3 linked regions of the Homo sapiens genome follow. The protein of the gene in region 1 interacts with the protein of each later gene in a biochemical or structural test. Each region holds a gene or a part of one and is shown in the gene's direction. Other genes may lie near its edges. The genes, in order: SIGLEC5, LEP and TLR4.

Evidence for each region.
Region 2: the proteins of SIGLEC5 (region 1) and LEP interact in a biophysical measurement, tested with the Homo sapiens proteins (one study listed by IntAct).
Region 3: the proteins of SIGLEC5 (region 1) and TLR4 form a complex in vitro, tested with the Homo sapiens proteins (one study listed by IntAct).

What each region holds. Positions count from the first base shown.
Region 1 is NC_000019.10:51,625,498-51,635,825, reverse strand, and holds the start of SIGLEC5 (sialic acid-binding Ig-like lectin 5 isoform 1 precursor), read left to right. Parts: upstream 1-5,424; 5' UTR 5,425-5,490; coding exon 5,491-5,527; intron 5,528-5,609; coding exon 5,610-5,993; intron 5,994-6,189; coding exon 6,190-6,468; intron 6,469-6,749; coding exon 6,750-6,788; intron 6,789-7,734; coding exon 7,735-7,992; intron 7,993-8,079; coding exon 8,080-8,364; intron 8,365-8,577; coding exon 8,578-8,677; intron 8,678-9,712; coding exon 9,713-9,794; intron 9,795-10,328. UniProt on the Homo sapiens protein: Putative adhesion molecule that mediates sialic-acid dependent binding to cells. Binds equally to alpha-2,3-linked and alpha-2,6-linked sialic acid. The sialic acid recognition site may be masked by cis interactions with sialic acids on the same cell surface.
Region 2 is NC_000007.14:128,250,132-128,259,958, forward strand, and holds the end of LEP (leptin precursor), read left to right. Parts: intron 1-1,859; 5' UTR 1,860-1,887; coding exon 1,888-2,031; intron 2,032-4,272; coding exon 4,273-4,632; 3' UTR 4,633-7,498; downstream 7,499-9,827. UniProt on the Homo sapiens protein: Key player in the regulation of energy balance and body weight control. Once released into the circulation, has central and peripheral effects by binding LEPR, found in many tissues, which results in the activation of several major signaling pathways.
Region 3 is NC_000009.12:117,713,236-117,723,210, forward strand, and holds part of TLR4 (toll-like receptor 4 isoform A precursor), read left to right. Parts: coding exon 1-1,413; 3' UTR 1,414-9,975.

The sequences.
Region 1 (10,328 bases):
CTCAAATTCATGGCGATTTCCTGCTATATTATTTTCTAACAGCTCTATTGTTTTCTTTGTCATATTTAGACCTTCAAGCTACCTGTACTTGACTTTTATGCATGAGCTGGGAGTCAAATTTCATTGCAAACTTACTGCAAACTTGATTGCATTAAGTTTTGCCCACAGATATTTTTTGAAAAGTTGGCCGGGCCCAGTGGCTCATGCCTGTAATCCCAACACTTTGGGAGGTTGAGGTGGGAGGACCGCTTGAGCCCAGAAGTTTGAGACCAGCCTGGGCAACATAGTGAGAACCTGTCTCTACAAAAAATTAAAAAATTAGCCAAGCATAATGGTGCATTCCTGTAGTCCCAGCTATTTGGGAGGCTGAGATGAGAGGAGTGCCTGAGCCCAGAGAAATAGAGACTGTGGTGAGCCCTGATCACACCATTGTACTCCATCCTAGGTGACAGAGACACTGTCTCAAAAAAAATTAAATAAATAAAAACCCAAAATAAATAAAAAGAAAAATTTATTATTTGCCACTTCCTCTATCACACTTGATGTTTCCTGTGGTTGAGGTCTATTTCCAGGCACTCAATTTTGTTCCACTTGGTCAATACATAATTGTCACTTTTTTTTTTCAGACAAGGTCTCACTGTGTCACTTTGTCACCTTGGATGGAGTGCAGTGCTGCAATCTTGGCTCACTGCAACCTCCACCTCCTGGGCTCAAGTGATCCTCCCACCTCAGCCTCTCAAGTAGCTGAGACTACAGGCATGAGCCACCCATGCCCAGCTAATTTTTGTGTTTTTTGTACAGATGGGGTGTCACCATGTTGCCCAGGCTGGTCTTGAATTCCTGGGCTCAAGTAATCCTTCTGCCTCGGTCTCCCATAGCGCTGGTATTACAGGTGTGAACCATTGAAATGGGCCTATTTTCTCACATTTTTAAAAATTTGAGACAGTCTCACTCTGTCACCCTGGGTGGAATGCAGTGGCACAATCTTAGCTCACTGCAACCTCCACCTCCTGGGTTCAAGCAATTCTTGTGCCTCAGCCTCCTGAGCAGCTGAGATTACAGGCACATGCCACGATGCCCAGCTAATTTTTGTTATTTTTTAGTAGAGACAGGGTTTCACCATGTTGGTCAGGCTGCTTTCAAACTCCTGACCTTAAGTGATCCATCTGCCTCGGCCTCCTAAAGTGCGGGGATTACAGATGTGAGCCACTGTGCCCCGTCTGAAATGGTCATATTTTCTGTAATGTTATGATACATCTTTTTATCTTGCAAAGCCATTCATTGTTCTTCATGGTTGCCTTGACCATACTTGAACATTTCTACTTCAGTATAAATTTTACAATAGAGTTACCAAATTGCACAAAAATCACCCGGGAGATTGTATGACATATTCCTTTGATGCTGTAGATTGTTGGGTAAAATTGGCATTCATACAATATTGTTCTCAAACTCATCAACATGGCCTCTTTTTCAGTTTATTTACATCTTGATTTATTTATTTTTTATTTATTTATTTTCTTGAGACGGAGTCTTGGTCTGTCGCCCAGGCTGGAGTGCAATAGTGCAATCTCGACTCACTGCAACCTCCATCTCTCAGGTTCAAGTGATTCTCCTGCCTTGGCCTACTGAGTAGCTGGGACTACAGGTGCCTGCCACCACACCCAGCTAATTTTTGTATTTTTAGTAGAGATGGGGTTTCACCAGGTTGGCCAGGGTGGTCTCGAACTCCTGACCTCAGGTGATCCACACGCCTCGGCCTCCCAAAGTGTTGGCATTACAGGCGTGAGCCACTGCGCCCAGCCTATTTACATCTTTAATGTCCTTGAATACAGATTTATAATTTCCTCCATAGAGGTGACATATACATATTTTTGTTAGATACATCTCTAATAGTTAGATATATTCCATATATTCAAAAATTATATCATATTTTTTGATATTGATAAATTATATCATAATTTTTGAAGCTTTTGTCAATGGCATTTTTATAAAATTCCATTTTTATTACTGTGATGTGGAAAGACAACTGATTTTGTAATTTGATTAATCTCTGGCTGTCTTGCAAATATTTTATTAAGGCTTCAAATGTATCCGTATATACTTTTGGATTTTTCTTTTTTTTTTTTTGAGATGGAGTGTCGCTCTGTCGCCCAGGCTGGAGTGCAGTGGTGTGATCTCCACTCACTGCAAGCTCCACCTCCCAGGTTCACACCATTCTCCTGCCTCAGCCTCCCGAGTAGCTGGGACTACAGGCGCCCACCACCACGCCCGGCTAATTTTTTGTATTTTTAGTAGAGATGGGGTTTCACCATGTTAGCCAGGATGGTCTTGATCTCCTGACCTCGTGATCCGCCTGCCTCAGCCTCCCAAAGTGCTGGGATTACAGGCGTGAGCTACCACGCTTAGCCTGGATTTTTCTATATGTGCAGTCATGTCATTGATAAAGACCTCTGTTAAAATTTCATTGTAATTGCTGTACCTTTTGCTTATTTTTATTGCCTTATTATGCTAGGACCTGAAGCTACTTCATTAGGTATATGATGTTTGCTGAAGACACCCTTTATCTTGTTTGGGAAATTCTCTAAAGAGAATTTCTAGTTGGCTATGAATTATATCATAAAGGGATTTGAAATCACCCAATGCTCACTTATTCATCTCTTGAGATTTAATTAGTTAAGGCTGATGTGAAAACAGAAGCCATACTATGTATTTTAGGAGAGGGAATTTAATATTAAGATTTTAATATAAAGATAAAAATACCATTTTCCTACATAATCAAGTCTTTATCTTTAGATCCTACTAGCCGGTATGATGAATTACTTTCACAGTTCAAATGAGGAATAAAGTTCAGAATTTGCAATAAGAAAAAGAAAAAAGAAAAAATTATTCTGACACCTGTTAACATTGACTATTCAGGATGACTGAGACAGGTATCAAGACTAGTGCAGGCCAGGCACAGTGGCTCATGCCTGTAATCCCAACACTTTGGGAGGCAAGGCAGGGAAATGACCTGAGGTCAGGCATTCGAGACCAGCCTGGCCAACATGGTGAAACCCCCATCTTTACTAAAAATACAAAAATAAGCTGGGCATGGTGGCATGCACCTGTACTCCCAGCTACTCAGGAAGCTGAGATAGGAGAATCGCTTGTACCTGGGAGGGGGAGGTTGCAGTGAGCTAAGGTTGCACCACTGTACTCCAGCTGGGACAACACAGTGAGACCCCGTCTCAGAAGAAAAAAACAGAAGTCAATTAAAAAAAAAAAAAGACTAGTGCAATAATGGAGATAGGTCAGGCTCAACTCGGAATACAGCAAAGACCAGGGGGGTTTATGGGCAAGAAGCATAGTGCAGCAGGTGAGGGAGGCTGGCCGTGTGTGTTAGTGGACGGAAAACTACTAAGAGGAGACACTGAAGATACCGGGATTCTTTCTAAACTGACTTAACAGGATTCTTGCTGAAAGCAGGCCAGCATGATCAGATACCAAGGGTGAGGGCTAGGGAATTTGATCAGATAGTGAAGGCGATCAGATATCAAGAGTCTTGCAAAACCAACTTAGCAGGATTCTTGCTACAGCTGGACAAGGCAGTCCCAAGGACAAAGCCTAGTTGAAAAAAGGGTTCAGAGGAGCTTTCATAAGTTTGGTTAAGAAGAGAGTCTTTGTGACTCTTTAGAAAAAAAAATACAAAAATACAAAATTTGGCACACATAGGATGATTTTTGGACTGAGAAAACACATCAAATCACAAAATCTAAAATGTCAAAATATGAGACAACTCAGAAAAATGGCATACTATGTTTGTTAATAGTATAGTCTACCTGTCTGCTACACCTGCATACTTTTTCCCTATATTTTTGACTGATTTTCTTTGATTGCCTTCATAATGGTGATAATTTTTTTCTTTTTGAGACAGAGTCTCACTTGGTCACCCAGGCTGGAGTGCAGTACCGTGATCTTGGCTCACTGCAACCTCTGCCTCCTGGGTTCAAGTGATTCTCCTGCCTCAGCCTCTGGAGTAGCTGGGACTATAGGTGTGCGCCACTATGCCTGGCTAAATTTTTGTACTTTTAGTAGAGAGGAGGTTTCTCCATGTTGGCCAGGCTGGTCTCGAACTCCTGATCTCAGGTGGTCCACCCGCCTCCTCCTCCCAAAGTGCTTGGGATTACAGATGTGAGCCACTGTACCCGGCCAATATTGGAGAATAATTTTATAATACAATTTTTATAGATAGAATAGAAAGAGAAGTCGGTATTTCTTCTGGCATGGGTGGTTGACGTTTGTTTTGATCATTGATAGTTTAAGAAACTGTCTTTATTCTCACAACACATTAATCGGAATGTGAAAAATTTTTAATATATTGTTAAATTTTGGGAAACTATTATGAAATTTCTTTCATAAAAGAGCAGTAACAAGGCAGGTTATTTCCACACATTGCGTGGGCCCCTCCTGGGCATCTGAAAAGTGGATCCTGCAAGGGAGGGCATTGAAGATTGAGCTTCATCAGCCTCACAGTGGCAAATTTGCTTCTGTAGCTCCTTAATAGGATGAGGCTTTAGCAGGGCTTGTGTTTCACTGCCGTCCCACAAGACCCTCAGGTCCATCAAGACCCAAAGTGGACTGTGCTGTGTCCCAAGAATCTTCTTAACATAAGAGTGCTTCAGCTCTCTCATGCTCTGACCCTCCACGAAATTTGGGTCAAAAAAATTTTTTTTCAGCCCTTTTGAACTTTTTTTTTTTTTTTTTTAAGGCAGGGTTTCACTCTGTTGCCCAGGCTGGAATGCCGTAGTGCGATCACGGCTCACAGCAACCTCAAACTCCTGGGCTCAAGGAATTCTCCTATTTCAGTGCCCCGGAGGAGCTGAGACTATAGGTGTGCCACCACACCAGCTAATAGTTTTTATTTTTTGTAGAGATGGTGACTTGCTATGTTGCCCAGGCTGGTCTCAGACTCCTGGGCTCAAACAACCCTCCCACCTCAGCCTCCCGAAGTGCTGGGATTACAGGCATGAGCTACCATGCCTGGTCACTTTGAACATTTAAAATCAAATTTAAAATTATGTATTTCCAGAATGTTTCATGGTTTTTAGGTGGAGGGTGGTTCTGACATCTCACCTCATCACCAGGACAAGCCCTTGTTTCTCTTTTCTTTCTGCATTCAGCCCCCTGAGGATCTCACTCATGACTGAAACATCATTTGAGGGGTGATCACCTCCAGATCCTCAGCTGGACAAGCCTCACATCGTCTGGGGGCCTCAGTATCTTCACCTGCGGCGTCCAGTCGGGGTGGGAGCAGAATGGCTTCCCAGCCCCCGCCTCACCCCAACAGCACGTGATGCCCAAGTTCCCCTTCTGTGCGCGTCCACAGCTCTCACTCACCCTCCGGCTTCCTGTCGGGGCTTTCTCAGCCCCACCCCACGTTTGGACATTTGGAGCATTTCCTTCCCTGACAGCCGGACCTGGGACTGGGCTGGGGCCCTGGCGGATGGAGACATGCTGCCCCTGCTGCTGCTGCCCCTGCTGTGGGGGGGTGAGTGAGCTGAGGGAGGAGGGACAGGCACAGGGGTGAGAAGGGGGGCTGGAGCTGCAGCTGAGCTTCTGTGTCCCCCCAGGGTCCCTGCAGGAGAAGCCAGTGTACGAGCTGCAAGTGCAGAAGTCGGTGACGGTGCAGGAGGGCCTGTGCGTCCTTGTGCCCTGCTCCTTCTCTTACCCCTGGAGATCCTGGTATTCCTCTCCCCCACTCTACGTCTACTGGTTCCGGGACGGGGAGATCCCATACTACGCTGAGGTTGTGGCCACAAACAACCCAGACAGAAGAGTGAAGCCAGAGACCCAGGGCCGATTCCGCCTCCTTGGGGATGTCCAGAAGAAGAACTGCTCCCTGAGCATCGGAGATGCCAGAATGGAGGACACGGGAAGCTATTTCTTCCGCGTGGAGAGAGGAAGGGATGTAAAATATAGCTACCAACAGAATAAGCTGAACTTGGAGGTGACAGGTATGGCAGGGACCCCAGGAGAGGACCCTGGGACGTGGAGACCCCCGTATGAGAACAGGGACAGGAGTTGGGCAGGGGCGGCTGGAGGAGGTGTAGGACTTGGGGCAGGTCGGGGCCTGAGGCCTGGCCACTCTCGGGGTCACACCTTACGTCCTCAAGCCCCTGGGGCCCAGGTATCTCCCTGTCTCCTCCTCAGCCCTGATAGAGAAACCCGACATCCACTTTCTGGAGCCTCTGGAGTCCGGCCGCCCCACAAGGCTGAGCTGCAGCCTTCCAGGATCCTGTGAAGCGGGACCACCTCTCACATTCTCCTGGACGGGGAATGCCCTCAGCCCCCTGGACCCCGAGACCACCCGCTCCTCGGAGCTCACCCTCACCCCCAGGCCCGAGGACCATGGCACCAACCTCACCTGTCAGATGAAACGCCAAGGAGCTCAGGTGACCACGGAGAGAACTGTCCAGCTCAATGTCTCCTGTGAGTGGTGCTGGGGACACAGCTGAGTCCTCAAGGGCAGTGGGAGTGAGGGGTGTGTGTGTGTGTGTGTGTGTGTGTGTGTGTGTAAGGAAGACAGAGAGAAACAAAACAATAACTTGAGAAACCTTGTGTGTGGATCTAAGCCTTGGGATCTGCGGGGAGTGAGACAGGACAGCCTTCCCCGCTTGGTGGGTTTCTGTGGCTCCTCTTTGGGTACCTCCTGGGCCCATGCCCATCTCACTCCTCACTGCTGAAGCCAAGTTTATATCTTTTTATCCCAGATGCTCCACAGACCATCACCATCTTCAGGAACGGCATAGGTAGGAAAGACCTCCTCTCTGAAGCTGGGACCTGCCTCTGGGTCTGTCTCTGAGCAGAGGTAGAGAATCAGAGCTTGAATGCAATCAGATTTGGGAAGAGCAAGAATGAGAATTACTGCCTTCTGGCTTCCACCTTCTGTGAGCCCCATGTGCAGGCACATATGCACACACGCACATACACACGCACACATGCACACACGCACACACACACGCACACACACACATGCATATACACCACACACATACACATGCAATACACCACACACACACGCACATACACACACACATGCACACAGGCACACATGCACACACACCACACACATATGCACACACACACATACACCACACAGGCACATGCACATACACACGCACACATGCACATACACCACACACACATATGCAGATACACCCACACACGCACACATGTACGTACACCCGCACACGCACACACACACGCACACAGGTGCACACTCATGCACTCTGCTCAAAGCAGTGAACAGACTTTAGACCCCACCCATCTCCCATCCCTCCTGTGGTCTGGTTCTTTCCACAGTCACTAAGGACCACTCCATGCCCCTCTCATCTCAGTCAGCCCAGCTCTGTGGTTCTTCTCTCACCCTTCCACTCCTGCATCCTCAGTCTTATTTCCTGTCACATTAGCGGACTGTATTTCCCAACGCCACCGGGGGCTCTCTGTCCTCTCTCCACCACAGTCCAGGCATGTACCAGTGAGATATTGAGCCTCCTCTGGAGACATGAGACTCAGACACTTTTGGTCAGTTTCCTGAGTGTGCAAAGGCCCAGCCTTTGAACCAGGATGCAATCAAGCCAGCATAGGCCAGGGGAGGAGAGGGAGATGTCATCTGGATCCTGGGAAGGAGGGAAGGATAGGGACTGTCAGCCTCCCTGGCCCCATCTCTCTTTCCCCACCCTTCTCTCCCCAAAGCCCTAGAGATCCTGCAAAACACCTCATACCTTCCGGTCCTGGAGGGCCAGGCTCTGCGGCTGCTCTGTGATGCTCCCAGCAACCCCCCTGCACACCTGAGCTGGTTCCAGGGCTCCCCTGCCCTGAACGCCACCCCCATCTCCAATACCGGGATCTTGGAGCTTCGTCGAGTAAGGTCTGCAGAAGAAGGAGGCTTCACCTGCCGCGCTCAGCACCCGCTGGGCTTCCTGCAAATTTTTCTGAATCTCTCAGTTTACTGTGAGTGTGGGGGCAGCTGGAGCAGGAACTGCATGGTATTAAAGAAGGAAGAGGCCCCCTGCTGAGTTCTGTCCTCCCTCCCCACAGCCCTCCCACAGTTGCTGGGCCCCTCCTGCTCCTGGGAGGCTGAGGGTCTGCACTGCAGATGCTCCTTTCGAGCCCGGCCGGCCCCCTCCCTGTGCTGGCGGCTTGAGGAGAAGCCGCTGGAGGGGAACAGCAGCCAGGGCTCATTCAAGGTCAACTCCAGCTCAGCTGGGCCCTGGGCCAACAGCTCCCTGATCCTCCACGGGGGGCTCAGCTCCGACCTCAAAGTCAGCTGCAAGGCCTGGAACATCTATGGGTCCCAGAGCGGCTCTGTCCTGCTGCTGCAAGGTCAGGGGGCGTATTGCAGAGGGCAGGGGCCTGAGGGGAGGGGCATGGATCCCAGAGTGATGGATGGTGGGAGAGAGAGGCTGGACTGGTGGTGGGGAGACAGGGTTCTTCATCTCCTGTCTGAGCAGGGCCCTGGAGCAAGTTGCCCAGCAGGTGGGAGGACAAGAGTCTGAGTCCTGGGAGTGAGTTATTGCACGCCCCTCTTTTCTGCAGGGAGATCGAACCTCGGGACAGGAGTGGTTCCTGCAGCCCTTGGTGGTGCTGGTGTCATGGCCCTGCTCTGTATCTGTCTGTGCCTCATCTTCTTTTTAATGTAAGTCTTGGTCCCAGGGAAGGTACAGGGTGGTGTTTGTAGGGAGTAGGAGAGACTGAATCTCAGAAACACAGAGCTAAGGCCAGAGGTGGTGATGTGTGCTTGTGGTTCCAGATGCTCAGGAGTCTGAGGCAGGAGGATCACTTGATCATGGAGGTTGAGGCTGCAGTGAGCCAGGATTGTGCCAATGCACTCCATCCTGGGCCTCAGAGTGAGAGACCCTGTCTTAAAAGAAAAACAAAACAAAACAAAAAGCAGAACTGAGTAGATCCAGAGAGGTCTTCTTTCTTTTTTTCTTTTCTAATAGCTTTATTGAGATACATGTTTTGTACAATTCATCCACTGAAAGTGTACGAGTCAATGGCTTTAAGTATATTGACAGAGTTATGCATCTGTCACCAAAATCAATTTTAGAACATTTTCATCAGCCTAAAGTGAAAAACGAAGACATAAAGAAACCTTGCACCCCTTAGCTATCACTCCTGCTTCTTTCCCCCAGCCCTAACCTATTCCATGTCTCTGTGGATTTGTCTGTCCTGAAGTTGCAGTTGTACTTTGTGTGAATGGAATCACGCGATATGTGGTCCTTTGTGGCTGGCTTCTTTCACTCGGCCTAATGTTTTCAAGATTCATCTATGTTGTAGCATGCATCGATACTTCATTCCTTTTTGTTTTCAAATAATATTCCATTATATAAATGGAACGCATTTGATTTGTGGGTTCAGCTGTTGACGGGTACTTGGGTTGCCTCTGCTTCTTGGCTATGATGCATAACACTGCTATGACCATTCCTGCCATGGTTTTGTGTGTAAGAGGGGGTCTATATGATGGAAATTCAGTCCATGGCCACCCTGACCAAATCCCTGGTTATCCAGGAGGATGGAGCCCTCACTCCGAAGTCAGGAAGGTCTCCGAGTTTAGTTCCGGGGCCTGGATGGCTTCATTGTCATTTTCACCATCTTAGCATGGGATGGGACAACCCGCTAACCCGTGCCTGGGTGGTCCCAGCTGCACTGTGCTGGTTTCTTTCCTTAGAGTGAAAGCCCGCAGGAAGCAAGCAGCTGGGAGACCAGAGAAAATGGATGATGAAGACCCCATTATGGGTACCATCACCTCGGTGAGTGGTTTGGGGATCTTCTCATGTGCATGTCCACTCGGAAAGTCCAGGCTGAGCTCTTCAGCATTCCACCAAACCCACTCCTCCCTCATCACCTGGGAGTTCTCTTCTCTCCTGTTCTCCCCCTTCATATCCCAGAGCCAGGAAATCATTATGTCCCATTCAACCTTCTTTGTTTTGTTTGTTTGTTTGTTTGTTTTTGAGATGGAGTTTCACTCTTGTTACCCAGGCTGGAGTGCAATGGTGCGATCTTGGCTCACTGCAAACTCCACCTCCCAGGTTCAAGCGATTCTCCTGCCTCAGCCTCCCAAGTAGCTGGGATTACAGGCGCACACCACCATGCCCGGCTAATTTTTGTATTTTTAGTAGAGACGGGATTTTGCCATGTTAGGCAGGCAGTTCTTGAACTCCTGACCTCAGGTGATCCGCCCGCCTCGGCCTCCCAAAGTGCTGGGATTACAGGCGTAAGCCACCGCGCCCGGCCACCAACCTTCTTTCTAAAAGTAAAACTAACTTGTCCTTTGCTCATCTTCC
Region 2 (9,827 bases), on another chromosome or scaffold:
GCTGGAGCCGCAGAGCCTAATCACTACACCCGCCCATCTCTGCTAGGGTTTCATGACTTCGTATCGGGGATTAGCAGTATTTAACTCTGTTGCACAAACATTTGGTGTATTATTCAGGTAACAAGTAGCTAATAGAGGAAGTTTTACTTTTTTAAGACATAAATTTGCCTTTTCCCAAATTACTTGGTACATAGTACTTTTCATGTTTGAAGTTGAGATGTGGGTACAATACCATAGCTTTATTCCAGAGCAGGGTATTTGTTTCCAAATGCCATGTTCCCAGCAGCTGCCCTTGACTGGGAATTGGGGTGTGATTTGGGCTTTTCCTTAAATCCTTGAGGAGCTGGAGGGGTGGGTGGCTCGCACTCCTGCTTTCTGGATCTGAATCCTGACTCTGTCATGGACCTGTTTGACTTTGGGCAAGTTGACTCCTATTCCTGAGCCCCATATTTTTCTCTTCTGTGAAATTCAGATTAAAAAAACATGGCTTTGATCAAACATTATAAATAATATATAGACAGACTGCTTGTTTTTATTGTATTGCCAGAAATGAATCCTACTAATATTGCCATCTATGGACAGAAAATGTATTACCTGTCTTCATCAAGACCCAGACGAGGAAGAACACGAAAAGCGGAGATTAATTTTACTGCCATCTCCAGAACCGTCATCCTAATATTTACTTACATTTTATTATTATTTCAGGCTCATGCACATATACTTAGCATGGATCATTGGCCACAGACTCGCATACATTTAACTTTATTACCTTTTGCCTCATGTATCTCATTAAAATTTTGCTGCTTAATCAAGGATCTGCATATTATTTTAATTTTAGAATTCACAGTTCCAAGACTTTGAAAGTTTCAAGCGTTCTGGGTGAATGTGTTATGCTCTCTCCCGCCACCATGTCTTTATACCCCCTGATTTCTCAGCCACTATGGCAACCACTTTCTACTCTTAGTAGCCCATATTTAGTCCAATCCCCAGCTCAGGAGACACTTCTTCCAGGGAGCCCCCTGTGCCTTCCAGTAGTATCTTGTACCTGCCCTTTTTGCAAAGCTCTTTCCTCCTGGCTTAGAATGGCCCATTGACCTGTTTGTTTCTCCTATTAAACTGTAAGCCACTCGAGGGTAGAGAGCATCTGTTGTTCACCATTGCATCCTCGGTGCTGAGCACTGCGTCTGACATATTATTTAGAAGGTCAGTAAGTGCTAGTGGGATTCAGGCTCCCAGTGGGTGGGAGAGAAAGGACGTAAGGAAGCAAGTGGTAAAGGCCCTCACAGAGTATCAGCAGGCTGGTGTGAGGGAGAAATGCAGAGGATGGGTGAGTAGCATAATCGCTAATGATAGGGTAATGATAGAGCACATTTCACAACACCTTTAAGCCCTTTCACGTGCATCAGATAATTTGATCCTCATAAAAGCCTAGAGATAGATATATTACAGGGATGAAGGTGGAGTATTTTGTGGTTATGTGATATGTTTAAAATTATGCAGTGAGTAAATGACTGGGTTCAAACCAGACCTTAAAAGTCTGTTATCTTTCCCTCGAGCATGCAATGAAGTCTACATCATCCCTACCATGTCCATTTGATCACACCCTGGCCTCACAGCTCTGTGGTCTACAGGATACCTCATGGTGGTTTTATTGACCAGACAATAATCCTCTTTCTAAGGGGATGCATTTCATTAATACATATGTAGATCATGAATTGTCTTTGACTTTGAGGGGATGGTAGCCAGAGCAGAAAGCAAAGCTGATTTTCATCCCCGTCTGGTAATGTGGTTGGTAATGTGAAGATGGGTGTATTCTGAGATACCGGCTCCTTGCAGTGTGTGGTTCCTTCTGTTTTCAGGCCCAAGAAGCCCATCCTGGGAAGGAAAATGCATTGGGGAACCCTGTGCGGATTCTTGTGGCTTTGGCCCTATCTTTTCTATGTCCAAGCTGTGCCCATCCAAAAAGTCCAAGATGACACCAAAACCCTCATCAAGACAATTGTCACCAGGATCAATGACATTTCACACACGGTAAGGAGAGTATGCGGGGACAAAGTAGAACTGCAGCCAGCCCAGCACTGGCTCCTAGTGGCACTGGACCCAGATAGTCCAAGAAACATTTATTGAACGCCTCCTGAATGCCAGGCACCTACTGGAAGCTGAGAAGGATTTGAAAGCACAGGGCTCCACTCTTTCTGGTTGTTTCTTTTGGCCCCTCTGCCTGCTGAGATTCCAGGGGTTAGTGGTTCTAATTCTAAACCACTCCAAGAACATTTGATTTTGCTACATGTTTCCATTTAAAAATCATAGGATTTGGGCTGGGTGTGGTGGCTTGTACCTGTCATCCCAGCACTTTGGGAGGCCAAAGCAGGAGGATCATTCGAGCCCAAGAGTTCGAGACCAGCCTGGGCAGCATAGGGAGACCCCATCTCTACAAAAATAATAAAAAATGTTAGCTGGGCATGGTGGTGTGTACCTGTGGTCCCAGCTAGGGGAGGCTGAGATGGAAGGATCACCTGAGCCTGGGAGGTTGAGGCTGCAGTGGGCCCTGATCATGCCACCGTGCTCCAGCCTGGGTGACAGAGTGAGACCTTGTCTCAAAATAAATAAATAAATAAATAAAAGTCATAGGATTTGATCAGGCATGATGGGTCACATCTGTAAGCCCATTGCTTTAGGAGGCCAAGGTAGGAGGATCAGTTGAGGCCAGGAGTTCAAGACCAGCCTGGGCAACATGGCAAGACCTCTCTCTCTAATTTTTAAAAAAATAAAAATTAAAGATAAGAAAAAAATCATAGGATTCTCATGAGGCCTCACGTGCTTATTTTCAACCTACCAAGGGGAAACCCAGGCCTCAGCGATTAGCTGAGCCACATGCAGGCACAGCCACTGTCTCTTTCCTTCCTGTCCCCTCTGTCCCCACCTTCTGCGCTCGCCTTCCTCCCTGACTTCACTTCCTTGAATCTTAGTGCCTACGACCAGAGGGAGCTGTGAAGTTCCTTGTGTCCCATTGGCAGGAACAAGACCCCCAGAAGCATCTCCTCAGGGCCTCTATCCCATCTCTAGATGTGCTTGTCATTAGGGTTCTTGTAGTTCCAGCTGATCTCTGGCCCTGCCGCTCAAAGATACCCAAAAGAGCGAGTCTACCCTTTTTCACATTCAACCCTCTACTGATTTGCAAATAGCAGTCAGTGCCCACCCTGGTCTTTTCTCTGGGGTCCAGCAGGCCTAGACCTTCAGCCATTTTCCTGATGAGGTCTGTATTTGAAATTAGGAAGATTAAGTTTGAATCTTCACACTTCTGATGTCTGTGAGATCTTCAGCAAGTTCCTTACTGTCTTTAAGCCTTGTTTTCATCATCTGGATAATGGGGATATCACACACTATTCACAAGGTTGTTATGAGGCCTAAATTAGCTAAAGCAATTGAATCCTCCTTACCCCCTGCATGGAGCTCTCTGGAGACTTCCACGTCTCCTGGTCATTGTGGGTGTCTTATGGTAGTCTTGGGCAGTTAGGGAGAAGTTAGGTGTCTGGAAGCAAAGATGGCTCAGAACTAGATAGAGTCTTGGGCATTTTATAGATAAAAACTCTTGTCTCCTTTAAAAATAATAAAAAAAAATTAGCTGGGCATATTAGCCACTCAGCAAGACTGCACGTGATAGATCCCGAGTGCCCCACCTTGGGTGGTGTAATACACAATATCACGGGAGCCCCGGGTAGTAACCACGGAGGTGTCAGCCTCAGTGCTGTGGGCAGATGGATGGGGAGAGCCTCCCGGAACTGGAGTCACTGGAGCAGGGTTGGGGGGCCTCACTGAGGGTACGGCCTTGATCTCTAAGGAGGAGGGACTGCCTGGAAAAGCTGACTGGGAGGGAGGACTCGGCTGGGGGTAGAAGGGACTAGGGAAGGCTGGGGGTGGGGGTGCTTATGGAGGACCTCAGATGCCTGGGGAACAGACTCCACTAAATAAAACATATGAAACCATGGCTGGTTCTTCAGCAGAGGCCATGTAGAGAAAGGAATGACCTAGGAAAGTTGGCCTGGAAGTGGAGGGAAGGATGGTGTGGGAAAAGCAGGAATCTCGGAGACCAGCTTAGAGGCTTGGCAGTCACCTGGGTGCAGGATACAAGGGCCTGAGCCAAAGTGGTGAGGGAGGGTGGAAGGAGGCAGCCCAGAGAATGACCCTCCATGCCCACGGGGAAGGCAGAGGGCTCTGAGAGCGATTCCTCCCACATGCTGAGCACTTGTTCTCCCTCTTCCTCCTGCATAGCAGTCAGTCTCCTCCAAACAGAAAGTCACCGGTTTGGACTTCATTCCTGGGCTCCACCCCATCCTGACCTTATCCAAGATGGACCAGACACTGGCAGTCTACCAACAGATCCTCACCAGTATGCCTTCCAGAAACGTGATCCAAATATCCAACGACCTGGAGAACCTCCGGGATCTTCTTCACGTGCTGGCCTTCTCTAAGAGCTGCCACTTGCCCTGGGCCAGTGGCCTGGAGACCTTGGACAGCCTGGGGGGTGTCCTGGAAGCTTCAGGCTACTCCACAGAGGTGGTGGCCCTGAGCAGGCTGCAGGGGTCTCTGCAGGACATGCTGTGGCAGCTGGACCTCAGCCCTGGGTGCTGAGGCCTTGAAGGTCACTCTTCCTGCAAGGACTACGTTAAGGGAAGGAACTCTGGCTTCCAGGTATCTCCAGGATTGAAGAGCATTGCATGGACACCCCTTATCCAGGACTCTGTCAATTTCCCTGACTCCTCTAAGCCACTCTTCCAAAGGCATAAGACCCTAAGCCTCCTTTTGCTTGAAACCAAAGATATATACACAGGATCCTATTCTCACCAGGAAGGGGGTCCACCCAGCAAAGAGTGGGCTGCATCTGGGATTCCCACCAAGGTCTTCAGCCATCAACAAGAGTTGTCTTGTCCCCTCTTGACCCATCTCCCCCTCACTGAATGCCTCAATGTGACCAGGGGTGATTTCAGAGAGGGCAGAGGGGTAGGCAGAGCCTTTGGATGACCAGAACAAGGTTCCCTCTGAGAATTCCAAGGAGTTCCATGAAGACCACATCCACACACGCAGGAACTCCCAGCAACACAAGCTGGAAGCACATGTTTATTTATTCTGCATTTTATTCTGGATGGATTTGAAGCAAAGCACCAGCTTCTCCAGGCTCTTTGGGGTCAGCCAGGGCCAGGGGTCTCCCTGGAGTGCAGTTTCCAATCCCATAGATGGGTCTGGCTGAGCTGAACCCATTTTGAGTGACTCGAGGGTTGGGTTCATCTGAGCAAGAGCTGGCAAAGGTGGCTCTCCAGTTAGTTCTCTCGTAACTGGTTTCATTTCTACTGTGACTGATGTTACATCACAGTGTTTGCAATGGTGTTGCCCTGAGTGGATCTCCAAGGACCAGGTTATTTTAAAAAGATTTGTTTTGTCAAGTGTCATATGTAGGTGTCTGCACCCAGGGGTGGGGAATGTTTGGGCAGAAGGGAGAAGGATCTAGAATGTGTTTTCTGAATAACATTTGTGTGGTGGGTTCTTTGGAAGGAGTGAGATCATTTTCTTATCTTCTGCAATTGCTTAGGATGTTTTTCATGAAAATAGCTCTTTCAGGGGGGTTGTGAGGCCTGGCCAGGCACCCCCTGGAGAGAAGTTTCTGGCCCTGGCTGACCCCAAAGAGCCTGGAGAAGCTGATGCTTTGCTTCAAATCCATCCAGAATAAAACGCAAAGGGCTGAAAGCCATTTGTTGGGGCAGTGGTAAGCTCTGGCTTTCTCCGACTGCTAGGGAGTGGTCTTTCCTATCATGGAGTGACGGTCCCACACTGGTGACTGCGATCTTCAGAGCAGGGGTCCTTGGTGTGACCCTCTGAATGGTCCAGGGTTGATCACACTCTGGGTTTATTACATGGCAGTGTTCCTATTTGGGGCTTGCATGCCAAATTGTAGTTCTTGTCTGATTGGCTCACCCAAGCAAGGCCAAAATTACCAAAAATCTTGGGGGGTTTTTACTCCAGTGGTGAAGAAAACTCCTTTAGCAGGTGGTCCTGAGACCTGACAAGCACTGCTAGGCGAGTGCCAGGACTCCCCAGGCCAGGCCACCAGGATGGCCCTTCCCACTGGAGGTCACATTCAGGAAGATGAAAGAGGAGGTTTGGGGTCTGCCACCATCCTGCTGCTGTGTTTTTGCTATCACACAGTGGGTGGTGGATCTGTCCAAGGAAACTTGAATCAAAGCAGTTAACTTTAAGACTGAGCACCTGCTTCATGCTCAGCCCTGACTGGTGCTATAGGCTGGAGAAGCTCACCCAATAAACATTAAGATTGAGGCCTGCCCTCAGGGATCTTGCATTCCCAGTGGTCAAACCGCACTCACCCATGTGCCAAGGTGGGGTATTTACCACAGCAGCTGAACAGCCAAATGCATGGTGCAGTTGACAGCAGGTGGGAAATGGTATGAGCTGAGGGGGGCCGTGCCCAGGGGCCCACAGGGAACCCTGCTTGCACTTTGTAACATGTTTACTTTTCAGGGCATCTTAGCTTCTATTATAGCCACATCCCTTTGAAACAAGATAACTGAGAATTTAAAAATAAGAAAATACATAAGACCATAACAGCCAACAGGTGGCAGGACCAGGACTATAGCCCAGGTCCTCTGATACCCAGAGCATTACGTGAGCCAGGTAATGAGGGACTGGAACCAGGGAGACCGAGCGCTTTCTGGAAAAGAGGAGTTTCGAGGTAGAGTTTGAAGGAGGTGAGGGATGTGAATTGCCTGCAGAGAGAAGCCTGTTTTGTTGGAAGGTTTGGTGTGTGGAGATGCAGAGGTAAAAGTGTGAGCAGTGAGTTACAGCGAGAGGCAGAGAAAGAAGAGACAGGAGGGCAAGGGCCATGCTGAAGGGACCTTGAAGGGTAAAGAAGTTTGATATTAAAGGAGTTAAGAGTAGCAAGTTCTAGAGAAGAGGCTGGTGCTGTGGCCAGGGTGAGAGCTGCTCTGGAAAATGTGACCCAGATCCTCACAACCACCTAATCAGGCTGAGGTGTCTTAAGCCTTTTGCTCACAAAACCTGGCACAATGGCTAATTCCCAGAGTGTGAAACTTCCTAAGTATAAATGGTTGTCTGTTTTTGTAACTTAAAAAAAAAAAAAAAAGTTTGGCCGGGTGCGGTGGCTCACGCCTGTAATCCCAGCACTTTGGGAGGCCAAGGTGGGGGGATCACAAGGTCACTAGATGGCGAGCATCCTGGCCAACATGGTGAAACCCCGTCTCTACTAAAAACACAAAAGTTAGCTGAGCGTGGTGGCGGGCGCCTGTAGTCCCAGCCACTCGGGAGGCTGAGACAGGAGAATCGCTTAAACCTGGGAGGCGGAGAGTACAGTGAGCCAAGATCGCGCCACTGCACTCCGGCCTGATGACAGAGCGAGATTCCGTCTTAAAAAAAAAAAAAAAAAAGTTTGTTTTTAAAAAAATCTAAATAAAATAACTTTGCCCCCTGCTCTTTGTTTCCTGTCGCCGTTCCTGGAGGGGCTTCGGGAGAGCTGTTTGTGTGTGACAGGGCAAGGCCTGGCTGGCCCCCATCCATCACTGGGGTCAGCTCCGCCCCAGGCTTGGCCACAGCCAGCCGCCAGTTATTCAGGCAAAAGGATTACCCTGTAAAGAAAACAGAGCTGGGTTTGGACGCTGAGAGGACTGGGAAACAGGTTGCAGGGAGGCACAGGAAGCACACACCAAGAGCCAGAGAGAGGCCTCTGTGCCATCCCAAGGAATGAGGACAAAGAGAGGGGTCCTCGGGAAGAAGGGATCCACTTTGGAGAGGCCCCTTAACACGGGACAGAGCAAGGACAGAAAGAGGCATCCACTGGGATGGAAGAAGGACAGGATCCACAGGGAAAGAGGGATGAGGGGAATGAAGAGAGAAGAAATAAAGAGTTCAGCATCACCTCATGATGCAACTAATTTGGCACAATGCCCAGCACAATGTACCCCTCCATTCTGATTTGGTGGCCAGAAGAATTGAGATTCTTGGGCCAGGCACGATGGCTCATGCCTATAATCCCAGCACTTTGGAAGGTCAAGGTGGGTGGATCACTTGAGACCAAGAGTTCGAGACAAGCCTGGCCAACATAGCAAAACCCCATCTCTACTGAAAATACAAAAAGTAGCCAGGCATGGTGGCACGTGCGTGTAATCCCAGCTACTTGGCAGGCTGAGGCAGGAGAATCGCTTGAACTCGGGAGGCAGAGGTGGCAGTGAACCGAGATCATGCCACTGCACTCCAGCCTGGGTGGCAGGTGAGACTCTGTCTCAAAAAAAAAAAAAAAAAATTGAGATTCTTGGATAGCAAGCCCATTATTTAACATGTAAGCAAATTATTCAAAAAGCTTAAAACATACCTATCAAAGGTTAGACTCCTTATTAGTATTCCGCTTAATCTTAATTTGTTCAACAAACCATTCTGAGTTCAAATAGAGGTCCAAATCAACTGTATAAAAGATAACTTTGAGATGAGGAAAATTTAAATGGGGGCTCTGTTTTCTTTCTTTCTTTCTTTCTTTCTTTCTTTCTTTCTTTCTTTCTTTCTTTCTTTCTTTCTTTCTTTCTAACTTTTTTGCCAGTGACACAACCTCAGAAGTTCCTGAGAACATGTGTCCCAATTCCATTTCAGATGCTGATAAGAAATTCTAGTTAATTTTACTAGGTATAATGATGGCATGGTGGTGTAGTTATTCTTCAGTGCTTCCTTATGCATTCGTGATAGATGCAAACAGAAGTTTAGGGTGAAATAGCACAATGCCTGGGATTAACCTTAAAAAACTTCAGCAAAACAATTTATCTTATAATTTTTTATAAATATTATATAAACTTTATATAAATAACTATATATCTATATATATATATCAACAAGATCAGCAAAATGTTGAGAATTGCTAAAGCTAAGTGACAGATACATGGGAGTCCATTATACCAGACCCTTTCCTTTTGGGTGAAATTTCCAGAAGAAACACTTTTTGGAAATGTCCAGTTCAGCCTGGCCCGTCCCCTGCCTGGGCAATGTTGCATTCCTGGGAAGGAAGGAGAGGAGGTGGGGAGAGAAGAGGGAGAAGGAGAATATGACGTGGAGCTGAGCTGTATTTAAAGAGCACATTTGATTTCACTGCCTGGCAGATGTCCCAGGGCCTTGGGGGGACAGCAGACTGTCAGTGCGGGTGTGAAACAGTGAACTAAGACAGGGATTTAGCAAATCAAACAAGGAAGGAATGGTAAGAACCAGCTGCAAGGGGCAGGGAGAGGCATGTCCTGAAGCTCACAGGAAAAAGCCAAAGCAGCAGACATCAGGGCCTCAAGCTCTGCCCCAGTCCTGCTGGGCCTCAGGTGTCCCACAGAAGCCAACTCCCCCCACCCAAGGGGGCATCGTGGTATTCCTGCTGTGCAGCTGTTCCTCCATATTAAATAACACTGTGTAGGCAGAGAAGCCTTTAGACCATTTGTAACCACGCAATGGGTTCACCTTGCCTGCTGCGTAGACAGAACCGATTTATCAAGACAGGGGAATTCCAATAAAGAGTAATGCATGCAGAGCAGGCTGTGCAGGAGACGGTAGTTTTACTATTACTCTAATCAGTCTCCCCAGAGCAGGGGGTTTTAAAGATAATTTTGCGGGTAAGGGCTTGGGAAGTGGGGAGTGCTGATTGGTCAGGTTGGGGATAGAATCACACCCGGTCAAGTTAGGTTTTCTTAATGTCTTCTGTTCCTGGGTGCGATGGCAGAACTGGTTGGGCCAGATTACTGCTCTGGGTGGGGTCAGCTTATCCATGGAGTGTAGGC
Region 3 (9,975 bases), on another chromosome or scaffold:
GTTGATCTACCAAGCCTTGAGTTTCTAGATCTCAGTAGAAATGGCTTGAGTTTCAAAGGTTGCTGTTCTCAAAGTGATTTTGGGACAACCAGCCTAAAGTATTTAGATCTGAGCTTCAATGGTGTTATTACCATGAGTTCAAACTTCTTGGGCTTAGAACAACTAGAACATCTGGATTTCCAGCATTCCAATTTGAAACAAATGAGTGAGTTTTCAGTATTCCTATCACTCAGAAACCTCATTTACCTTGACATTTCTCATACTCACACCAGAGTTGCTTTCAATGGCATCTTCAATGGCTTGTCCAGTCTCGAAGTCTTGAAAATGGCTGGCAATTCTTTCCAGGAAAACTTCCTTCCAGATATCTTCACAGAGCTGAGAAACTTGACCTTCCTGGACCTCTCTCAGTGTCAACTGGAGCAGTTGTCTCCAACAGCATTTAACTCACTCTCCAGTCTTCAGGTACTAAATATGAGCCACAACAACTTCTTTTCATTGGATACGTTTCCTTATAAGTGTCTGAACTCCCTCCAGGTTCTTGATTACAGTCTCAATCACATAATGACTTCCAAAAAACAGGAACTACAGCATTTTCCAAGTAGTCTAGCTTTCTTAAATCTTACTCAGAATGACTTTGCTTGTACTTGTGAACACCAGAGTTTCCTGCAATGGATCAAGGACCAGAGGCAGCTCTTGGTGGAAGTTGAACGAATGGAATGTGCAACACCTTCAGATAAGCAGGGCATGCCTGTGCTGAGTTTGAATATCACCTGTCAGATGAATAAGACCATCATTGGTGTGTCGGTCCTCAGTGTGCTTGTAGTATCTGTTGTAGCAGTTCTGGTCTATAAGTTCTATTTTCACCTGATGCTTCTTGCTGGCTGCATAAAGTATGGTAGAGGTGAAAACATCTATGATGCCTTTGTTATCTACTCAAGCCAGGATGAGGACTGGGTAAGGAATGAGCTAGTAAAGAATTTAGAAGAAGGGGTGCCTCCATTTCAGCTCTGCCTTCACTACAGAGACTTTATTCCCGGTGTGGCCATTGCTGCCAACATCATCCATGAAGGTTTCCATAAAAGCCGAAAGGTGATTGTTGTGGTGTCCCAGCACTTCATCCAGAGCCGCTGGTGTATCTTTGAATATGAGATTGCTCAGACCTGGCAGTTTCTGAGCAGTCGTGCTGGTATCATCTTCATTGTCCTGCAGAAGGTGGAGAAGACCCTGCTCAGGCAGCAGGTGGAGCTGTACCGCCTTCTCAGCAGGAACACTTACCTGGAGTGGGAGGACAGTGTCCTGGGGCGGCACATCTTCTGGAGACGACTCAGAAAAGCCCTGCTGGATGGTAAATCATGGAATCCAGAAGGAACAGTGGGTACAGGATGCAATTGGCAGGAAGCAACATCTATCTGAAGAGGAAAAATAAAAACCTCCTGAGGCATTTCTTGCCCAGCTGGGTCCAACACTTGTTCAGTTAATAAGTATTAAATGCTGCCACATGTCAGGCCTTATGCTAAGGGTGAGTAATTCCATGGTGCACTAGATATGCAGGGCTGCTAATCTCAAGGAGCTTCCAGTGCAGAGGGAATAAATGCTAGACTAAAATACAGAGTCTTCCAGGTGGGCATTTCAACCAACTCAGTCAAGGAACCCATGACAAAGAAAGTCATTTCAACTCTTACCTCATCAAGTTGAATAAAGACAGAGAAAACAGAAAGAGACATTGTTCTTTTCCTGAGTCTTTTGAATGGAAATTGTATTATGTTATAGCCATCATAAAACCATTTTGGTAGTTTTGACTGAACTGGGTGTTCACTTTTTCCTTTTTGATTGAATACAATTTAAATTCTACTTGATGACTGCAGTCGTCAAGGGGCTCCTGATGCAAGATGCCCCTTCCATTTTAAGTCTGTCTCCTTACAGAGGTTAAAGTCTAGTGGCTAATTCCTAAGGAAACCTGATTAACACATGCTCACAACCATCCTGGTCATTCTCGAGCATGTTCTATTTTTTAACTAATCACCCCTGATATATTTTTATTTTTATATATCCAGTTTTCATTTTTTTACGTCTTGCCTATAAGCTAATATCATAAATAAGGTTGTTTAAGACGTGCTTCAAATATCCATATTAACCACTATTTTTCAAGGAAGTATGGAAAAGTACACTCTGTCACTTTGTCACTCGATGTCATTCCAAAGTTATTGCCTACTAAGTAATGACTGTCATGAAAGCAGCATTGAAATAATTTGTTTAAAGGGGGCACTCTTTTAAACGGGAAGAAAATTTCCGCTTCCTGGTCTTATCATGGACAATTTGGGCTAGAGGCAGGAAGGAAGTGGGATGACCTCAGGAGGTCACCTTTTCTTGATTCCAGAAACATATGGGCTGATAAACCCGGGGTGACCTCATGAAATGAGTTGCAGCAGAAGTTTATTTTTTTCAGAACAAGTGATGTTTGATGGACCTCTGAATCTCTTTAGGGAGACACAGATGGCTGGGATCCCTCCCCTGTACCCTTCTCACTGCCAGGAGAACTACGTGTGAAGGTATTCAAGGCAGGGAGTATACATTGCTGTTTCCTGTTGGGCAATGCTCCTTGACCACATTTTGGGAAGAGTGGATGTTATCATTGAGAAAACAATGTGTCTGGAATTAATGGGGTTCTTATAAAGAAGGTTCCCAGAAAAGAATGTTCATCCAGCCTCCTCAGAAACAGAACATTCAAGAAAAGGACAATCAGGATGTCATCAGGGAAATGAAAATAAAAACCACAATGAGATATCACCTTATACCAGGTAGAATGGCTACTATAAAAAAATGAAGTGTCATCAAGGATATAGAGAAATTGGAACCCTTCTTCACTGCTGGAGGGAATGGAAAATGGTGTAGCCGTTATGAAAAACAGTACGGAGGTTTCTCAAAAATTAAAAATAGAACTGCTATATGATCCAGCAATCTCACTTCTGTATATATACCCAAAATAATTGAAATCAGAATTTCAAGAAAATATTTACACTCCCATGTTCATTGTGGCACTCTTCACAATCACTGTTTCCAAAGTTATGGAAACAACCCAAATTTCCATTGAAAAATAAATGGACAAAGAAAATGTGCATATACGTACAATGGGATATTATTCAGCCTAAAAAAAGGGGGAATCCTGTTATTTATGACAACATGAATAAACCCGGAGGCCATTATGCTATGTAAAATGAGCAAGTAACAGAAAGACAAATACTGCCTGATTTCATTTATATGAGGTTCTAAAATAGTCAAACTCATAGAAGCAGAGAATAGAACAGTGGTTCCTAGGGAAAAGGAGGAAGGGAGAAATGAGGAAATAGGGAGTTGTCTAATTGGTATAAAATTATAGTATGCAAGATGAATTAGCTCTAAAGATCAGCTGTATAGCAGAGTTCGTATAATGAACAATACTGTATTATGCACTTAACATTTTGTTAAGAGGGTACCTCTCATGTTAAGTGTTCTTACCATATACATATACACAAGGAAGCTTTTGGAGGTGATGGATATATTTATTACCTTGATTGTGGTGATGGTTTGACAGGTATGTGACTATGTCTAAACTCATCAAATTGTATACATTAAATATATGCAGTTTTATAATATCAATTATGTCTGAATGAAGCTATAAAAAAGAAAAGACAACAAAATTCAGTTGTCAAAACTGGAAATATGACCACAGTCAGAAGTGTTTGTTACTGAGTGTTTCAGAGTGTGTTTGGTTTGAGCAGGTCTAGGGTGATTGAACATCCCTGGGTGTGTTTCCATGTCTCATGTACTAGTGAAAGTAGATGTGTGCATTTGTGCACATATCCCTATGTATCCCTATCAGGGCTGTGTGTATTTGAAAGTGTGTGTGTCCGCATGATCATATCTGTATAGAAGAGAGTGTGATTATATTTCTTGAAGAATACATCCATTTGAAATGGATGTCTATGGCTGTTTGAGATGAGTTCTCTACTCTTGTGCTTGTACAGTAGTCTCCCCTTATCCCTTATGCTTGGTGGATACGTTCTTAGACCCCAAGTGGATCTCTGAGACCGCAGATGGTACCAAACCTCATATATGCAATATTTTTTCCTATACATAAATACCTAAGATAAAGTTCATCTTCTGAATTAGGCACAGTAAGAGATTAACAATAACTAACAATAAAATTGAATAGTTATAATAATATATTGTAATAAAAGTTATGTGAATGTGATCTCTTTCTTTCTCTCTCTCAAAATATCTTACTGTACTGTACTCACCTATTTTCAGACCATAACTGACCATGAAACCTGGGAAAGTGAAACTGTGGATAAGTGAGGAACTAACATACATACATGATTGTTTATCTACAGATGTATGCCTCAGTTTCTTAGTATGCTTGAAAATGTATGATTTTGTGTATATCCGTGCTACATGTAAGTGTGGTTCTATTCATATTTGAATATGAATTCTGCATAAGTGTGTTTATTCAAGCAAATGTACAAGGCTCTGAGAAGGAAGATCAACATACAACTTGGAATATTTCAAGGCCGAAATATTCAAGGCTGACATTGGCCTCCTTCCTATCAGTTCCCTCTCCCAGATGGAAATTCTAGAAATGGCAGGTGAGGTGGACAAGCAGGGAAAGAAATTATATGCATAGAACAGAAGGAGAAGAAAGAGTAAAGTCAGGCCTCAGCCAGCCTCTTTTTAGCTCTTTAAATCCTCTGGATTTAAGAGGGATAAAGGGTGGAATAAGGATAAATTAATGCCAATTGTAATGCCTTAAATTTGTGTGATACCTTACAACTTGAAACATATTCACAAAACTATATATTTGAATATCTCATTAGCTGAGTAAGGTAGCAAATCATAATTAACTTTTTCCATTTTATTGATGGGAAAGCTGAAGTTCAATGAAGTAAATTTTTCAATAGCCCACAGAGTAGGAAAGTGACAAAACCTGAGCCTGGGCCTCCAGGTCACTCAAGGACACTTTCTTTCTTCCACACCCAATTGCTTCATGCTTAAAGTTGGCAAAACAGGAAGTGAAACTCCTGCAGTTTTCTGTGTGGTTGACACTAGCAAGGGTTTCTCAGTTGAAGCCATGAATCATTAAGCCAATACATATGCATATATGTTATACATACCAAATGATTTATTTATAACCCTATCTTTCCATAAAGGACTTGAAGGAGCTTCAAACAAAGGATATGTGAACAATAGGGTTAATCAATAATAAGTAGAAAATCTGGACATAGAATAAAAAGAGGAGAGAAAGACACCGAGAATGAGCGTTAATACAGTGCTTTCCATTTTTCTGGTGTTTTGAGTAGCGTGGCTTTTGGAGAAAGCCAAAACTCAAATTCACTCCTTATCAACTGTGTGCCTTGGGCTCCATTTCTCTGAGAGTCTACTTAGCTCCAATGTAAAATAAGAATAGAACTATGACTTTGTAAGGTTGCTCTAAGGATTGAAAATCATGTATTATGTTCAATACGGGGACACTGTCCTTATGGGTGAGTACTCCCCTAAGACTTTATTAAGAGGGCACTAGGAGAAGCACTGGGAGGTCTTCTCAGTAACAACACTAAAGTAATTGCTATTTTTCCAGCCTGTGGAACCACAGAAGTGACTGTAACTAAAATTAGACATTTCTTTCTGATTCATTCTCTACTCACGGGATTGTCAGACCCCAGTCTTCTTCTGGACTCTATAAACTTTTTAGAAATCATCAGCAGGCTCCTGGAGAAGCTTAAATGAACTCACACAATATGTGACAGTGAACTCCCTGGGAGAGTGAAAACCAAAGTCTAAGCCAGTGTCTCCATTTACTTGTGTGATTGTGGGCAAGTCATTCAAGTGCTTTGAGGCTCAGGTCTTAATTCATGAAATGGAGGTAATAATACCTTGTTGGCAGACCTCACTTGGTTAAAATGATAATGTTGATAGTTACAATAGTTACATTTAATTGATCAATTGTTTTATGCAAGGGCTTTATTTGTGCTATCTCAGTTTGTCACATCAATGAATTAGAAAGATACGAAAGTATTTCCAATTTACAAATGAGGAGTCTGAGTCTGGGAGTCATTCTGTCATGTGTCCACTGTCACCTGCTCATTGGTGGCAGCACTGAGATTAGGATCTAAGTCCACTTCACCGCAGAAGCAGGGCTTCTAAATACTGTTCTATGGCAAGAGCACCCTGCTCTCACAAAATGCATAAAACTTCCTATCTCACCATTATAATTTTGACTGATATTAAACAAAGAGAAGTATTATTATTATTACTTGTTTTTATTTATATTACAGCTGTAAGAGCCAGGAAAAATGTGATCTAAGTTATGTGATCAAAGATTTTTTAACAGTGAACAAATCAGGCCCACTAGATGATGGCCTTTCTTTGAACAACATGCCTAGGGTTGCTCTATCATGTCTACAGTTGGTCTGACTTCCTGACGGGCATCACAGACTTGTGATTAAACACAGAGGTTATGGGGGAAGTTCCAAAAGCTTAGGACTTTCCAGATGGTTGGAATAAGATCACACACTCTGGCTGCCCTTATGGAGATCACCGAACTTTTCAACTCAAAGTAAAATCTGTGGAGTAAATGGTCGATCAAAAGGAACCAACTATATTGAGCACCATGCGTGATCATCTGATCGTTACTGCTACCTTGTGAGTTAAAGGCTACTCTTCTCATTTTAGAAATGAGAAAAGAGATGCCCAGAGAGGACGAGTAACTTGCCTTAGGTCACACAGCTTATATTAATCACAATAACATTTGCCGCACCTTCTGTATTTTTTTTAAGTTGCTAAGCTTTTGGTGCATGTCTGGCACCGTTTTAGTTGTATATTATTTCATTTAATTGTTAAAATGACCTTCTGATGCAGGTATTTGTAGCTTTGCCATTCCACAGATGAAGAAACAGATGAAAGGACTGAATTGTTCAATAGGAAGGAGCAGAATCAGGATATGAACTTGGGTTGGCCTGATTCTTGGGGCTGCATTCTTTCCATAACATAATTGCTTGCTGTGATGTCCTGGGCTACTCTGCCAGGGGTGGTTAGTGGAGTGAATGGAGAATAATTTAGACAAGGTCAGTAACTCCCATGCCATCTAGAAATTAAAAGTTTAAAAGGCAGAGTCTGCAACTCTCCTTGATTTCTACAGAAATAAAGATGATCCCTCCTGTGACAGTGCTAAGTGACAATTCTGAGTGTAAATGCGCTTTTTGGCACAAATTGTCCTGTCCTAATAGTCTTGATTATAATTATAAAATAATGGGTTTCTGAAAGGCTGCAAGCAGTTCTGGGAATGGCAATAAAGGTTTAGAAATGACGTGATGTTTATGAGAGAAGTGTTTTGTTGAAAATTAAACTCACGTTTAGGAGAAAGGATTGTGTTGTATGCTCCTAGGAAACTATCTCACTATGTAATTAAATCAAAACCAGCCAGTTACCAATTTGAGCTCTTGACTCATACTAACAACACCCCATTTCCCATGGGCCAAGCAAGGCAGGACTGACCTGAAATAACCCAGCCTGACTCTATCCACAGCCACCCCAGGACCTTGCCCCTCCGTCTTCCTAGGGCTCGGCCGTGAGATGCTAGTGCATGACCCTTCCTCTTCCTGGGACTGTCCTTGTCTTTCCCTTTGGACTCTGGGAGGTCTGTTCTCCTCCTCAGAAAGGAATAAACACTCTTTCTATTTGTGGGATTCCCTAGGAGACACTATATAAAAATATAGAGTTAAAAAAACTATTTAAAAAAAAGACAACTTCATGTCTCTACTCTGACTTCATTCTTTTTAAGATGGGTAACAAAGACTCTCTTCAAGGTTAGAAAATTTTATTTTAATTTTTATAGATTTAGAGAGTGCAAATGCAGTTTTGTTACATGAATATATTGCATAATGGTTTAGTCTGGGCTGTTAGCGTAACCATCAACTGAACAGTGTACTTTGTACCTATTAGGTACTTTCTCATCCCTTAACCCCTTCCCACCTTTCTGAGTCCTCAATGTCTGTTATTTCATTCTCCATGTCCATGTCTACAAATTATTTAGTTTCCACTCATAAGTGAGAGCATGGATGGAACTGGAGAAGAGTATTTTCTATCCCAAGATCGGTTCCTTGATCTTGTGTCTCCAAATCACTTGCTCTCTCTCTTACATCTTTTCTATCTTCTTCTAGCCTCTTTTTGCAAACTTCATTTTGACAAAGAATTCCAGGCAGTCTACAGCTGATTTTATTTCAATACAACGATTAAAATGGAAACCATATATGAAGATGACAAAGTTGAGCAGGTCCCAAACTCTCACTTTTAAACAAATGCTTGGCTTAAGAATCACTTAATGACTTTCATTCTGCTATCTATGTGTCTGTGTATCTAGGTACTAATTATCTATCTTTATGATCTTTATTGCTAGAAATTCTGGTTCAATATCAGAGGTTAGTCCTAAGGAATTTATATTTTAAAATATTCTCCCAGTTTTCGTGCACAGACAGATTTGGGAATTACTGTTATAATGGAAAATGGAGAATAACCACCCACATTTAATATGGTTATTGGTTTTGTTCTTGAGATTTATTGCTAAGATTCATGATAGCCCAGGCAAGGTCAGATAATGTATTTTTATTTTACACTGTATAGTTGATTCTTCTCAATCCCACTAGATCAGACTCTTTGGGATACTAGGATTGGCCTATTTGATGGTGAGCTCACTACATCCATTTAGATGTTGTGTCCATGCAATCATTTTAGTTCTCCTAGTTTCTACCTATCACGTTGTCATTTTCCCTTCTTTATCATCCTGGGTAGCTGAGACCCCACATAAATATATACCAGAAAAATGTTGTGGTCTTTTCTAAACTCTCTGAGGCATCTGTTGTCAATGTGATGTTGTTTTTTGTTTCCAGTCCAAAATATATCAAAGTAAAATTTAACTCCACTTTTGCTAAGTATTCATCTTGCCTTGAGTACTAAGATTCCAAAAATGACTTTCCCCTCTGAAAAACACAGGATTTCCTTGCGAAAACTTGCTGGGCCACTGCCAATCTTCCCAGAAACTCCTTTTTCCTTATCGTTGAGGGGAATTGGGGAAGTGATCACTGACGGTTGAAATTCAGTAGTTTTGGTCTTTAAGCTGAGACCCTGAGTCTTCTGAGGAGTCTACTGCTCCCCAGTGGGAAACACCTGCTGTCAAAATTTTCCTGCTTGCAAAGAGCACTTTTGAAATTAATGGCAGGGGATGAATATCTGGCTAGTGCTGTGCTCAGCTGAGTTATTAATAGGGCCTTCTGAGTCCTCTCTACACATCATCTTTGGCTGAATTAGCTGTGGTTTCAGCACCTGAGAGTCTAGCACCACTAAAGGCAGGGAATACCTTTGCCAGTTTCTGGCATATTAACAGCTGAGATCAGATAAGTGAACAGCGATAGAGGTAGTGAGGTTTAGGATTCAGGTCTGCCACCGGGAGCGCACCTCTGGGCTCAGGTCTCTCATTTGTAAAATGGGACATTTAGGTCAGATCAGCATTTTCAAAAGTGTGACATGTTAGTAAATAAGATGATTTTATGTGGTTGACAGATGAATGTATTACCTTTAGTGGTTATATGTTTATTTTCATGGTTACTTTTATTTATAATAAATTTTGTGACTAGCTAAGAATCAATTATCTCTTTAAAATATATTTAAGTTTAAAATGTGGGCCAACTTAGGAAAAAAACGGGATGAAATGAATTATATAAAAGGTATGCAGATTTGGAAAAATTTTGAAGGTGTCACAAGAAAGATTGGCAGTCAGAAAGGAATGAACCAAACGGCTGCTGAGGGTCAGGCCAGCTCTCTGACATTCTAGCATGTTCACATCTCCAGGGCTGTTTCCTTACCTATAAATTGTGGCAATTGGAGTAAATGTCCATTCCAGGAATTCTATTCTATGATTAGAGGTGTAACTTCATCATCCAGATTTTC